Regions from separate parts of the Homo sapiens genome. Here regions 2 and 3 are each reported to be linked to region 1. The links are microRNA targets in miRTarBase. Many come from high-throughput screens and were not tested one by one. Region 1 holds a microRNA gene; each other region holds the end of a gene's coding sequence.

The links. Region 1 holds the annotated microRNA hsa-miR-601 (UGGUCUAGGAUUGUUGGAGGAG, at 3,081-3,102, opposite strand). A microRNA usually pairs through its seed, bases 2 to 8, with sites in the 3' UTR of a target mRNA and lowers its output. Matches are read on the target gene's strand: a 7mer-m8 pairs with bases 2 to 8, a 7mer-A1 pairs with bases 2 to 7 and ends in A, and an 8mer does both.
Region 2: the mRNA of CLN8 is a reported target of hsa-miR-601. Seed matches in the 3' UTR shown: 7mer-m8 at 3,259-3,265 and 7mer-m8 at 2,955-2,961.
Region 3: miRTarBase lists CCDC90B as a target of hsa-miR-601. Seed matches in the 3' UTR shown: 8mer at 3,760-3,767.

The regions. Positions count from the first base shown.
Region 1 is chr9:123,399,487-123,404,561 of GRCh38, forward strand. It overlaps MIR601 (microRNA 601), which reads right to left and starts at 3,117; the gene lies at 3,039-3,117. It overlaps DENND1A (DENN domain containing 1A), which reads right to left. Exons shown (of 24, transcript NM_001352964.2): 21 at 3,916-4,004. RefSeq lists an enhancer at 3,120-3,741.
Region 2 is chr8:1,779,579-1,784,653 of GRCh38, reverse strand. It overlaps CLN8 (CLN8 transmembrane ER and ERGIC protein), which reads right to left. Exons shown (of 3, transcript NM_018941.4): 3 at 1-4,404. The coding sequence ends at 4,087. Among named protein-coding and RNA genes, the nearest start is that of CLN8-AS1, 18 kb to the right of the region's middle. RefSeq lists an enhancer at 442-941.
Region 3 is chr11:83,257,521-83,262,595 of GRCh38, forward strand. It overlaps CCDC90B (coiled-coil domain containing 90B), which reads right to left. Exons shown (of 9, transcript NM_021825.5): 9 at 1,561-4,446. The coding sequence ends at 4,391. It also overlaps a transcript of ANKRD42 not described here. Among named protein-coding and RNA genes, the nearest start is that of CCDC90B-AS1, 26 kb to the right of the region's middle. RefSeq lists a silencer at 387-681.

The DNA of each region.
Region 1 (5,075 bases):
CCTCCCGACTAGCTGGGACTACAGGTACACGCCACCATGCCCGGCTAATACCTCTGACAACCTTAAGGGATGTTGGTGAATGTCATTCCTCTTTCCTTCCCCAAGAAGAAACACTCAGGCACCAGTGCACATGGTTTCTTTGGCGGTGAGAAGACTGAACAGATCCGGTTCCCAACTCCAGCCTTCAGGGAGCCAGAGAGGAAGGGTGGCCTGCTGGGCAGGCCATCATCTCATTTTAGGATGTGGAGCTGTCTCTCTGGGCAAAGCCAGACTAAAGATGAACCCTGAAGGGCCCCGTTCCAAGGACAGCATCAGAATGTCATGGAGAGAATGAAATCAAGAATTCTGAATGCTGGCCTGGCCACTTTTCAACTGGGTGACCTTGGGAAGACTGGTCAAATCCACATTCTGGGCCTGAGCTCCCACTCGGGAAGAAACGATGCTAGCCCAAGAGGGCCTAGAAATCAATGGGTGCTCCACCGCGCCCCCTGCTGACTGGTGTCTGACCCACAGCCTCTCATGCAGGATCCCTCCTACCCCGATCCCTGCCCCACGGAAGCCCCTGGGCGTCACATCAGCTGTGCTCTGAATAGTAATGGAAGTAGCCAGTACTTCTTGAAGAGATTTAGTAACTGAATATTAACCAAGTAATGTTACCTGAAAAGTAAAGGGAATGTTTCCCCCACAAATCTTCAAAAAAGTCTTCTTCCAATTGCCAACGGCCAGTTTTAAGGGACTAGGAAACCTATCATTGATTCAGAAAGAAAATTTGACACAGGAAAATTTCATTTTGGGAAAATGCAAGTCAACCAAGAGTCAGCATGGGGACTCCCTTTTAAGGCCTCCTTTAAAAAAATCGTCCGTGCTTGCGCCTAGTAGGTTTTCAAAGATACTTGCTGAATGAATGAATGCACGAATGGACAGATGGAATGATGGAGGGATGGACATCAGCTGGGAAGGAAGAAATGAACTTCAGGGGTGGACTGGCCAGAGAGTGGCTGGCTAGTGTTTCTGGGCCCTGATGAGTCCCAGGATGCTCAGCTACTCCAGGAGACAGTCTTACTCTTAATCAGCCCCATCTTGCTGTCCACAAAGCTGGTTATTTTATTTTTGAGACAGAGTCTCACTCTGTTGCACAGGCTGGAGTGTGGTGGTGTGATCTCAGCTCACGGCAGCCTCCGCCTCCTGGGTTCAAGTGATTCTCATGCCTCAGCCTCCCGAGTAGCTGGAATTACAGGGGTGCGCCACCACACTCGGCTAATTTTTGTATTTTTAGTAGAGACGGGGTTTCGCCATGTTGCCCAGGCTGGTCTCGAACCCCTGACCTCAGGTGATCCGCTCGCCTTGGCCTCCCAAAGTGCTGGGATTATTTAATGTGCAATTGGAAGTGAGAGTTGGGGCAAGAAGTCAGGAGGAATGAATCTCTCCTCTCCACTTCAAAGATCCTGCATCCCCTTCTGCTGCCCCAGTCTTCTAAGTTTCCCAAGCACTTTGATATTCCCAGTGGAGATGAAGATCTGTGATTCAAGAAAACCCAGGCCAGATTAAAGGGCCAGGCACCAAGTCCGTGTGCCCAACACGGAACCACCACCTGACAAAGGCCCATTAGGATCGGGCCCCTGCTGCCAGCCTGGCTTCTCACATCTCCCAATACAATGCCGACAGATTGGTGGAGCCGGTTTCTTCCCCCTCCCCCGAACAATATTTTATGAGGAGTCTGTTTTATTAAAATATTTTCCGCTGGATGCTTCCTGTGTTTCAAGAAGTTGGTCCTGCCAGCTGGAGCTGATGACAGTTGAGAAAAACACATCCAAGTGCTGTTGTGACATGGCATTTGGAAGGGGCGGAGCACAGTGGGGGGGTGGGGAAGCAGCATGGGAAGAGGCGTAGAAAAACACCCGGGTTGCACTAGAAATACCACTGGTATTATGGGAGAACAACTTCCCCTTCCTCGTTAAACAAACGTGAACAGAAACCCTTGGAATGATGTCCTGAAACGTACCCCTCTGTCTCCTTGTGGGCCCGAGCCACTGTGACGTACGCTCACAGAAAACCTGTCATTTGTTTTCTATCACTGGTAGTTTGCCAACCACCAAACTGGCTCCCATGCTCCCACTGGTTTATTTCAACCCCAAATATTTTCCAACAGAAGTAGAAAACAGGGCATATTAAACAAACAACAAACCAACCAACCAACAAAACTAAAAGTGATACTGACACAGTTCAGGTGATAAGCAGGAAAATGGGATTATCAGACACCGGCTCTTTGGCACACACTGCGAAGTCAGCCCCTCTGCCCAGTCTGGAAAAGCAACGGCGTAAGTCAATGTGATGAAGAGGTCCAGCCTCTCGTCGGGAACTTGGCCGCAAAATGGGTAATGCTTTTCTGTAGGATGTGGAGTGTAGCTGGTGTTGCAATGGTGTTTCTGTGTAATGCAAGAATATTCTGGGTTTACATCTCAATATCAACAGGCCTGTGACCCTGTATCCTGGTACAGTGTCTAAAAGGTTTAGTCCAGTTTTAAAGAGGGGACTTCAAAGAAATGTGACAAATTTCATCCCCTTAAGGAGGAATCTTTAGTCCGAGGCACTCAGGTGCCATGCAGCGTTCTCTCCATAAGGGGGCAATCATAATCCATCCCTCATGTTCCCACCAGGCTATTGTGCAGAGCAAAAGTTAAACTTAACCCAGCTTCAGGAGTCCTCTCTTCCAAATGTCTAATAACTGAGCATCCTTGTGTGCAAGCGCACACGTGCACACACACACACACACACACGCACGCACACATATAATTCTGGAACTTTCTGGGCAAAGTCTGAGGGCTGTCTGGGTGGGCTGGTTCCTTAAAGACCGTACCCTCGCTATCAACCAGAAAATCCTGGAGAGCTGAAGTGAACTGCAACTTGGGTTAGGCCCCAGCTTGACAGCTCGAAATCATTTTTTTTCCTTCTTGCTCCAACTCTGACTGGGACCTGCCATGTCCCTTACCTTCTTTCCCATTTTCTGAGAGCCAGACAGACATGGGGGCCTCCCCCTTTCCACCCAAAGGACTTCAGGATCCCTGGGGTAGTTTTTCTGACTCCTCCAACAATCCTAGACCAAGACGAACTCATGCACTTTTTCAAGGCATCACAGGAAGTCAGCGTGTAGCCGCTGAGTTGTCTGGATAGAGACTGAGGGCTGTGCTCCTTTTGCGGACAAAGGGAAGCAGTGCTACCTTCTGCAGATGGCTCTGGTCTGGACTCGGGGCTATCTGCAGCCTTCTGCCTCACCCCACCACAGGCAGGTCCACTTCAGTCCACTGCTTGTCTTTCTGCCCCCCTCATTCACTTCATCTACCCCACGCCTCCTGAGCAGGTGACTCTAGGCCAGTCCTACGGGAGGTGCTGGGCATAACACCCAGGGAGCTCCGCGTCTCAGGGAGATGGGTAAGAAAAACCACAGTAACATAAATCCTCCGGCACAGGTGGGCAAAGGGTCCTGGTGGGTCTGGGGCAGTGGATGAGGGCAGTCCTGTATATAGGTTCTCGGCCATGGAGGCCTAGGAAGGTGGGTGGATCCAGTTCAACACTTGGCCTCCTTCACCAGGTTCTAACCCTCACCTACTGACTCGGCATCTTCAGCACAAGAGGCCTAGGACCTTCTTCTGAACCCAGCAAAGTATGCTTTGGACCCCACCCCTCGAAATCCAGCCCAAGTGCCCGGCTCCCTGGCCTCTGGGGCCTCCCACTGGTGTGACAACCAGACCGAGTAAAAGATCAAGTCCTGTTCCCTGAATGACCCCTTTGTGAAACACCCGCTGGGAGCCCCGGGGAAGCCTCACAAAGGCCGGGGCTACACGCTTGGGCTTCGCAAAGTGCTGGCTCCGCAGACACAGGGTTCTTACAGACAGAGGGGAGAGGCACAATACTCACTGCTCAGGGCTCGGCACAGACGTCCTCCGGCCTTCCACTGCGATGTTGCTCTTTGGTCTCTTAACAACATGTGGACGAGGTGGGCGCACCTAGAGGAGGTACAGGGGGAGAGCCCCAAGAAGGAGTGAGTTGGAAAAGCCATACAGGTACATTCTGAACATTTGGATAAACGGCCCCCCCAAAAAACGTTTAGGGATTTTCAAAGCTACAGGCTACAAAAGCCCAGCCTATCACAGAAACATCACCATCTAATAGGCAGCAGACAGACACATTAACTGGAATTCTGTGGCCTATTCAAATCAGAAGGGTGCTCCTGGAAAGCTCGGTTTCTTCATCTGCAAGATGAGGATAGTTCCATTGGCCTCCTTGCAGGGCTGTGGTGAGGGTCCAATGAGATGATGTCTACATAGGACCCGGAACAAAGAGGCCCTTATCAATGACAATTCCCTCTCATCTTCCTCTGATGCCCAGAAGCTGGTTTTGTAGAAAGAAAAGGTTGCGCTTACACTTGTTTTTAGGGTGAACATGCTTAGTTTGCTCTTTTTACAACAGAATCACAGGGTGCTTATTTTCCTCTCTAAATAAGAGAGGCATGAGAGAGTGCCACTACAAATCGTCTTTCTGCTTCCCAGAGCATCCCTGTGCTAGTCCTCCCAGCAGGGTTCAGCCTGGATGCTGCCCATCTTGTGTAGCTACATGCACTGAGCAGACCTAGTGGGAGGGTCTGCAGTGGGCACATCAGGAAGGACCCAACTTCCTAACCCCACAGCTGCTGCAGCAGCGGGATGGGTTTTTCTGACCCGCTGTCTCTGAAAGCGAACATGAGGGCCCACAGAGAAAGACACCCTCATCCCCTGCCAGAGTTCGTGATGGATGTTAGGCTGAGAATTTCTAGGTGCCCTTAGAAGGATACTCATTTGGTCCAGTCGACATTACATGGCTTTAAATTTGGCATGGCCATCTCTGTACACTCCCAGTGCCCGAGAGGGATGGGTTGAGAGCTAAGCTGAGAAAGTCTATCTCTGAATTTCATTGCTGATAAAAACAACCGAGCCTGCCGGGGCAGGGGGCTTGCTTTCTCCACGGATGGGATGCCACAACTGCTGAGTTTCCAGGACAAGACAGGGAAGGGAAGCAGGCACACACTCCACCTCCTGCCC
Region 2 (5,075 bases), not on the chromosome of region 1:
GGCTTAGAATCAATCAGAGAATAAAACAGATGCAACCCTGCCCGTGTGGAGCTCACAAAATTCGGACATGGGAAGAGAACCACATTCACCGGGTGCTGATGCTGCAGTGTGACCGTGTCCCCTCCAGAATTCACATGACATTGTAATTGTCATTGCGGTGGTATTAAGAGGTGGGGCCCCCTACTCTTGCAAATGGCTTAATGCCTCATAAAAAGGCAGCGGAGAACTAGCTGAGGCCTGTTGACCTTCCATCCCCTCCACCACGTGAGGATGCAGTGTTCCCAGCAGAAACTAATCAGCCCACACCTTTATCTTGGACTTCCAGCCTCCAGAACTGTGAGAAATGATGTCCGTTCTTTTTTTTTTTTTGAGATGGAGTCTCACTGTGTCACCCAGGCTGGAGTGCAATGGCGTGATCTCGGCTCACTGCAATCTCTGCCTCCCAGGTTCAAGCAATTCTTCTACCTTAGCCTCCCAAGTAGCTGGGACCACAGGCATGCACCACCACCCCCAGCTAGTTTTGTTTTTTTAGTAGAGATGGGGTTTCACCATGTTGGCCAGGCTGGTTTCAAACTCCTGACCTCAAATGATCCACCCGCCTCGGCCTCCCAAAGTGCTGGGATTACAGGCGTGAGTCACCGTGCCTGGCCTGAATGTCTGTTCTTTATAAACTACCCAGTCTTAGGTGTTTTGTCACAGCGGCCCATACTGCCTGAACCACGACTTTCTGCGCTAAATGCCGTGTTGAAGAGCCCAGCTCTGGCGCCGGAGGCTGCGCCCAAGGCAGGCACGGCTGTTCACGAGTTGCGTCACCTTGGGCACGTCATCACCTCTCTGAGCCCCGAAGCTCCTCGACAGAAGTGGAATCAACAGTGCCCATTTCATTCAAGTTGTCCGGGCGAAGAAAATGGAAAATCATGTCCCTTAAGCGCAATACCTGGTAAAAAATCTCACACTGAACTGCGGCCATGACAACTCCAGCATCACCCAAGGAGCCTGGACACCGAGAAGGGCAGAAGCCTGTGCGGCCCAGCCCCCGCAGCGCGGCGAGGAGGCTGCACCAACCCTTGGTCTTCAGTCACTCAACCTCCCTGGCCCATTCTGTTTCCCAACTTAAGAAACAAAACAAAACATAGGTATAGAGAAGGATTTCACTATCGAAAGAGAAAGCGCACTGACAAGTGATCACACTGAAGCCAAGCTGGAGAGCCACATCCTGGCTAAACGCAGGGCCATTTTCTATCCGGGTCACCTGCCATCAGGTGGAGTTAAGGCCGATATTGCCCAATCGTCCTAGTTTTCAAGCAGTTCCAGAATTCCTGTTATGTGAACTCACCTCGTTTAACACTTGCTGTAACTCTCAATAGAGGATGTGAAGCACGCAGCACACACGTGCAGCTGAATGCTGGCCAATGTGGGCCGCTGAGTGGGCCGGGCCCAGGCTCACACCAACCTGGCACCAAGAAGTCAGAGCTCATGAATGTCGCTTGTACCATGCTCCACTATAGCTACATCCCCTCACACTGCCGGTCAGGGAGACTGAGGCCAGTGAGGACCATGGGAAAGTGCTGTGCCATCTGGAAGGTGTACGCATCATTAACATTTCACGAAGCCTTTTCCACCCCTAAACCCCCAACTTCAGGCTCTGCACTGAGGGGTCCCCGGACCAATGTGTGGGTGACACTGGACGGAGCGGGTGAGCCTGTGCTTCTCTACAGCACCTCCATCTCTATGCATCCACACACGCGTATGAAGATACAGGAGGTAAAGTGTGGACCCCTGGGAAGGTCAAAGTCCTAGTGGAGGTGAGATAAAAATTAGGCTGTCCACTTCCAACTCCAAATCGAATTCTGAACACATGATGAATTTATCATTATATTTTCTATCTCCAAGATAAAGCATTCACAGCAATATGAATAGGTTAGTTTATTTTGAGAGAGAGGAAGACATCATTTGGGTTCTGTAAACATCAGTCACTTTATTATGCCTCTGTCTGGCTGAAAAACACCAGCTCCTGCTGACTCCACAAGGGCACGGCTGCAGAGAGTGCTGCCTGCCAGGTGTGAGGTTTCCAGTTAAAAGTTTCAGCAGGGACACCATTTGCTGGATGTGTTTAAGATTAAAATTGCTTCGTAAAATGTGATAAATAGGTTACTATACACCTTGGTCAATATAGTTAAAGCACCAGCAATCAAAATACACCGCTCCGGGCCGGGTGAAGTGGCTCACGCCCGTAATCCCAGAACTTTGGGAGGCCGAGGTGGGCAGATCACTTTTAGTCAGGAGTCAGAGACCAGCCTGGCCAACATGGTGAAACCCTGTCTCTACTAAAAATACAAAAAATCAGCCAGGCATGGTAGAGGTACCTGTAATCCCAGCTACTTGAAAGGGTGAGGCAGGAGAATCCCTGGAACCCGGGAGGTGGAGGTTGCAGTGAGCCGAGATCACACCACTGGACTCCAGCCTGGGAGCCAAAGCCAGGCTCCGTCTCAAAAAAACGAAAACAAAAACTAAACAAAAACAAAACACTGTTCCGAGAGTTCCATAAAACATAAGGAACGTAAGTCACACATGATTCTCACGAGCAGCCGACGTTTTCCACGTACATTTCAAAGGTGCTTGTGATAAAAAATAAACTTTGAATTTTAATTGCACGTTTATATCAAAACACTCACACACACACACACACACACACACACAATTCTGTATGTCTGTTAACAACATTGCTAAATTGCTGTGTAACTTCTACCTGGGTATAAAACAGTAGAACAATGTACCTTGGGACTCATCATCAGGCAGCTCATTGCCAGGGGCTGCTGCAGGACCACTCTAGGGACCCCAGGACCCTGCAGTCGAGCATCTCTGAGGGGTCCAGGTCCACCCTACAGCTCAGGGAGAAAATGACATCACTACTTGTCTTGAAATCTACAGAGGAACACCAACCACAGAATTAGGGTCTAGATTGGGTGCCTGTAGGTAACTCAGTCAATTAAAAACAGCTCTGAAACCCAGACAACCTGATTATGAAATCCTTACCTTATTTTGTCAAATGAGCAACACAGTATGAATAATAACTTCTCATTTTAAAACAGGTACCATGATTTAAAAAAAAAAAAAACTTGCAAGATTTCATCTTTACCAGCCCACGCTCTGGTTGGTGGGGGTTAAACTCCAAGGCGTCTCTGCTGCTACAGGAGTCACTACCCCTCAGCGTTGTCTTTGTACCACTTGCCACCAGATGGCACTGCCGTACACTTCGGTCTAGAATTTTTTTTTTTTTTTTTTTTTGAGAGAGAGTCTTGCTCTGTCACCCAGGCTGGAGTGCTGGAGTGCAGTGGTGCGATCTCAGCTCACTGCAACCTCCGCCTCCCGGGTTCAGGCAATTCTCCTGCCTTGGCCTCCCAAATAGCTGGGATTACAGGTGTGTGCCACGACACCCGGCTAATTTTTGTAATTTTAGTAGAGATGGGGTTTCACCATCTTGACCAGGCTGGTCTCGAACTCCTGGCCTCAAGTGATCCACCTGCCTCGGCCTCCCAACGTGCTGGGATTACGTCGGGTGTGAGCCACCCCACCCAGCTTAGAATTTCATACGCTGGGAAGCTTTAATAAGGAACAAATCATGTTATTTTCTATCTTAGCCCAATTCTCTCCAACTGAAAAGAATGTGACTTCTGAATAAGACACACGGCATATGAGTGTGCAGCTGGAAAGAGTCAACGCTGACCCACCCGCCCTGTGGGAGGCACTTCACTATGAAGCCATTTCCAGCATTCAAAGCCACCCCACTCCTCAACAGGTGTGACGCCCCGATGCCTGGACACCATGGACTCCTCTCCTAGATGCTTGACACGGTCCGGCGCGGCTAAACTGACAGAGCCTGCCAGACAGTCATAAAATTATAATTTCTTAAAAATACTTTGTAGCTACTTCAAAATTAATACTAATGCGAAAGAAAGTTAGTATTTCCCTTAGAAGTAAACACAAAACATTCACTGCCTCATTAATTCAAAAGCCATCATTCGCGGGGCTTCCCAGAATCGGTGTGCCAGCTCTGCTGCCGCCCCGGAGCCCCGGCTGGAGCAGCTATGGCCTCTTCTTCCGCAGCAGCTGCCCGTTGCCTTCTGGCCTGCTCTTGGCTTCTGGCTGTGCGAAGTTCCAGTCCACCGGATTGAGAAGCTGCTGAGTCTTCTTATGGGTCCAATATGGATTAATGATTAGCGTAAGCAGAGCCAGTCCGACAAGGAACAGTGTCAAATGAGGCAGATACAGGCTGCTGACCAGGCCGTCCCAGTGCCAGAAACACACCCACCACATGTGGTAGGTTAGAACCATGCGGCAGTGAAACATGTGAATCATCAGCCACTGGTTGAGCTTCCAAAACAGAGACTCGGACCAGCCCGCCTGCATGGAGAGAAGACAAATGCACAAGTCAATGCGAAACTGCCAAAATTCATTCTTCACATCACAAAAAGGTATTTGCTACCTTACTTACCAAACAAAACAAATTCATTTCAAAGCAAAAGAATTTCCTCCCCAGGGCTCTGCTCTCATTGGGACTTCATTCTGAAAGGAGGCCACCAGCTCTGTGGGCGCACCTGGGCCAGCAGGGCTGACCCTTGCCCGCTCATGCTGTTTTCCTGCTCCTCTTGCTCTTTGGCTTCTGCTCCCTAAAGCTATGATAAATTCAACCTTTCTTTCAGTATCCCTTCAATCTTTGTTTTATCTTGAATTTTCTCATATTAAGTAAATAAACAATACTTATTTGGCAAAACCAGACACAGGTATATCAAGCTCCCATACCTAGACCCTGGGAAGTGATGAGGTCATGGGGGTAAGGCCCCATGATGAGATTAGTGTCATAAGAAGAGAAAGAGACCAGAGCCTTCCCCTCCTCCATGCTAGGACACAGCCAGAAGGTGGCCATGTAAACCAGGAAGTGGGTCTTCACCAGACATGAATCTGCTGGTGCCTTGATCTCAGACTTGCAGCCTCCAAAACTGTGAGAAAGGAATTTCTGCTATTCCAGCTGCCTAGTCTATGGCAGTCTGCTGTGGCAGCCTGAGCTGACTAAT
Region 3 (5,075 bases), not on the chromosome of region 1:
TCTCACAAGAGCCATATAAAGTAGGTATATTTTATAGAGAAAGTAGTTGTGCCGAGGATTATATAATGCTGATCTGGGATTCCAACCTTGGCAGCAAAAGTCTGCATTCTCTTAACCATTACTGGGATTTCAAAACCATTTATCTTCCCTTCTGGGACTACAGACAGCCTTACTTTTCCCCTCTAACTTGATGCTAAAGTTAATCCCAACCCTGGAAATAGTTTGTTGTACTTGCTCCAGTTTTCTCTAATTTCTTCCTGTACCAGTGAGGTAGAAAACACCAGAATAGTGTTGTAATAAAAGCATACACACCCTGTGGCAGAGGTTCCCTGGTTGTCCTCCAAAATCCATTCTCCCTTCTTCTGTAGTGGGAAGGATTTATGTGGTCTGTGGCCGCGCAGGATAAGAACTAACTTCCCAGCTTGCCTTTGCAGCCAAGAGACCAAGTTGTGTTCAGAAGGATGTGAGCAAAAATGTTACGTAAAACCTTAGGGTCATGGCTATAATGCCACCTCTTGCTCTTTTCTTCTTCTGGAATGTGGATGTGGTGGTGAGTCAGCCACTGGACCTTGTGAATGAGGGCAACACCAGGATGGCAGAGCAGTAAAATAAGGAGCAAGGGCCCTGACACCATGGAGCTGACATATTAGCCCTAGAATGCTTACATTGGACTGTAAGAGAGAAATAAACCTAATCTTATTTAAGCCACTGCTATTCTGGATCTTGTTACAGCAGCTAAATTAAAATTATAATACAATTCCCAAATTGTGTATATTTATTCATAAATCATATACCTATATTATTGACACATTTAGGTTAATGAAACAAAAAAAAAAGGTTATTAAAGAGATTTAAGTTATTTTGTTCCTATGACTTAGTAGATTGTCCATCTCATGAGAAAGAGTACTCAGGTTGAACCCTACTAGTATATTGAGTGACAGCATGAGAGGGTGAGATTTGGAGTTAAAGACTTGAGTCCCTGTGACTTACTTGCTGGGGGACTGTGGACAAGTTACTTCACTTGGCTAAACTTGTTTCTTCAGCTGTAAAATGAGGATACCATCTACCTAAGAGGAGAGCTGTGAAAATAGGTGAGCACATATATGTTATTTAGCATATTTGCCCTCATATAGTCAATGATAGCTATTTTTTTTCAAAATAGCAATCAGTAGTTTCAGTGATAATGACTACAGCCTTTCCCACTGCCCTTTTTTTAAATATTAAAAAATACTTAAAAAATAAACAAGTGTTACATATCCAAATTCTTCAAGTTTGACAACATTATAAGCTTTTAATTGTTTTTCCAATAGGTGAGGGTTTTTCCTGACTCTTGCCAAGTCCTTACATACTCTTGCCTGGCCTATTTTGTCACCAAAGCAGTATGGATAGGCAGGTTAGGATCTACACTGTGGCTATAAACATGGTGAAAGTAGCTAATCCTTGTGGAGGCTTCTTACCACTCATAGAAAATGCCTAAAAGGTGTATTACGCTCACTCAGTATGAATGCAGTATTTTCAGCATACCCATAATTAAATATTTAAAATATTAAAAAGTTTGGATTAAGGTCAACTGAGATTTATGAGTATCATTTATTCCACAGGCGTTTAACAAGTACCTCACATGTGTCTAGAGGCCTTCTGAGAACTTGTAGTTTAGTGTAGGAAAAAGATACGTATAATTGCTGTTTCATAGTGAAGTGCAAGTGCTGGAATAGAGGTATAGTTTTAAGGCATATAGAAACACAATCCTCTCATCCTTATTTCATATATTTCCATCACTGAAACAAAAATTTACCTGAACCCCAGAACCACCATCAAAATGAAGTTTCATGGAAAGGATATAGGATCTAAAAGTAATGGGGACAGGGTATGGTATGCATATTTCTATTCTTCTGTTATTGGATACAAAGCACTTTGTTTGCTAAACCCCTACAATGAGAAAGAACGCAGATCTATTTAATATTTAGTGGCTGTATAACCTGGGAATAAGTATATTTATTTGTTGGGGCTTGAGAAGGTCCAATAAATGGCATACCTCCTTTCCATTCTGGGTTGTGAATATAACTAAGATGAAGAATGAATAAACTAATATAGAGGCCTAAAAAACACCTTTATTTGCTGATAAAACTATTGGAGAAGTTTTTTTTTAGGAGACAGGGTCTCATGTGTTGCCAGGCTGGAGTGCAGTGACTATTTATAGGTATGATCATGGTACACTTTAGCCTTGATGAACTCCTTGGCTCAAGCAATCCTGCTGCCGCAGCCTCCCAAGCAGCTAGGACTATAGATGTGTGCCACTGTGCTCAGCAAGAGAATATGGGTTTCATCTTAAGGCCAGTAAGCTTCTTATCACTGAACTCTAGAACTGGACAGATTTACCCTGTCTCAAGCATTGCTCTACTGGGCCAGGCCTCATCCTGCAGAGGCAGAGCCTGATCCCATAGAAGCAGAACAGAATGAATGTCTCTTCAGATGGGCTGGTCCCAAACAGGAGTGGGGAGGAAGTGGGCTAATTGCACCTTGTTTCTCCTTCCAGATTTACAATTGGGCAAGTCACTTTACCTAGGGCAGAGTGGATAAGGGGATGAAGAGTGACGACAGTGTTATGCTACTGGAGCTTCCTTCACATGGAGGAAAGACGCATTCCCTCTTAATATTTTAGAATATTTTAAATCTTAACAAACCAATAATTTACTTGTTTATGTCTCTCTCCTTAAGATTGTCAATTCAATGAGAATGAAACCATGTTCATCTCTGTGCACACAGGGACTAGCATGCTGTTTGGCATATAGCAGGCAGTCATATTGGTTAACTGAACAAATGCAGTATACTTTGTTACAGTGGACTTTAATATATATGGTAACTTATTAATTGACTCAGTGAAAATTAATCTATAATATACTAAGAACTCTCTTAGGCAATAGAGATAAAAATGAATCAGAATGTAACAGGATAATGTCAAGGTTTTTCTTTTGAAAACAAACCAGCAGTTAGATTTTTGAGGAAAATATAGTTGGAAAGCCTGACTCTCACTCACTGGACCATATGGACCAATCTCTTGACTGCTCTATACTGCAGATTCCCTGTTTATAGCTAAACAAATGACAAGGCTATTTTGAATAATGATTGTCAAACTTTTATAGCTATTACCAAGGCATTATGAACTCAAAATGTTTACTTTCTGGTCTTGTCTTCTTGATCTGGGTAAGACTGAAGAACTAAGATGAAAAGGATATTTTAAAATTTCTTTGAAATTACATATGATTTACTAATAGATATTACTTTGTAAGAAAAAATATATCTAATAACAAAACAAAATACGAATTTAAATTTTCCTATGAGTTTCTTGAGAGTAGGTACTAGATATCAATGTTTGCTGAATTGAAGTCATTAAGAAAAGCTTTGTTTTATGTAATAAATTTAAGATGGGTTAACTTAAACTACATTAAGAAGCAGGGATAAACTGGTTTTTGAGTATCAAATATTTAAAAAATACATGTAATAATCAGAGCTCAATATTTAGCAACTCTACAGATTTCATATTAAGTGTTGTAATTTGCACTAAAGCACACATTTATTTATTTAGGTAATGGAGTCTTGCTCTGTCACCCAGGCTGGAGTGCAGTGGTGCTATCTCGGCTCACTGCAAGATTCTCCTGCCTCAGCCTCCCGAGTAGCTGGAATTACAGGCATGTGCCACCATGCCTGGCTAATTTTTGTATTTTTAGCAGAGACGGGGTTTCACCATGTTGGCCAGGCTGGTCTAGAACTCCTGACCTCAAGTGATCCACCCGCCTCAGCCTCCCAAAGTGCTGAGATTACAGGTGTGAGCCACCGCGCCTGGCCTATCATTTTAAAATTTATTGTTTTAGTTCATTACCAAAAAGAAATCAATCTCCAACTATATGGTAAGTCACTTTGAAAACCCACACAACTTTGTTGTAATAATCTTTCATTTTATAGAAAAATGTAATTATGCAATGGTTATCAGGAAAGTTAATTCAGTAATAAATATGTAGGCTAGGGAATGGTTTACAAATATTCAACCAATACCCACAAAATCCTGTATGATTTACACAACTGTTCAAGCAAACATAAGAAAACTCTGGTTCAATTTCTATTAACTATCAAAAGGACAAAATGCTCTTCTATCTCAAACCAGGTCTGAGTGACAGCTTTTCAATATAATAAAGACACACACCTGCACTCACACACACACAATAAAGACACAGTATCTCTTCTCATTCTAAAACACTTCCTCTTTTAGTCCGTATACACTTCGAATAATCTTGTGTAGTAAATTTTTGCTGCAACTGACAATGTTCAAAGTAAATCTCTCCCGGTTTGGTGTTCTAAGAAGCCAACAGCCACAGCAGGATGAGCATTAATACTACTTCCAGAATCTATAAAATCCCAATGCTATTGCCAGGCAAGTAAACACCGAAGCTGTGAAAAGAAGAAACTGTGTTATAGGTCTTGTATCTGTAATTATTTTGCAGAGATAAAGAGAATAATGTTATCTTTAAGTGAAGAGCAAAAAACAGGAAATCCAACCAATTTTCTATCCTATGTTTTTTATTCCCTAGACAATTAAGTATGAAAGACATTCTTAAGGGCAGCCTTAATGCCTAATTCTTCTTAAAAGCACCTGTATATTAAAATGTAAATTATGTCATTTAGAAACCTATAACCTGTATTTAAAATCATTAACGCTAGCATTATTGACTACTTTAAATAATTATAAGCTCTAATTTCAGATCTCATGATAAATGAAATCTTTCTTATATTAAAAAATTACGTAGTTAGGCTAGTAAAATATACATATATCTGTGAGAAGAGAATTTTAATTGCCTTTTCAGTACATTTTTAAATAATTTCTCATAATTCTTAATAAAATTTTAATAAAAACTCTTTAAACTCAATGAGGTAGAAGAAAAGGCAGAAAAAGCATTAGGTTTTTAAAATAGTTAATATACTACCTGTACTTTAGCTTACATCATTTTGGATAAAAAAAAATTCAGTTTTCCCAGCTTTTAGAAGGTAAGTCTGAGTGAGGCCTTTAGGGACTCCCTAGT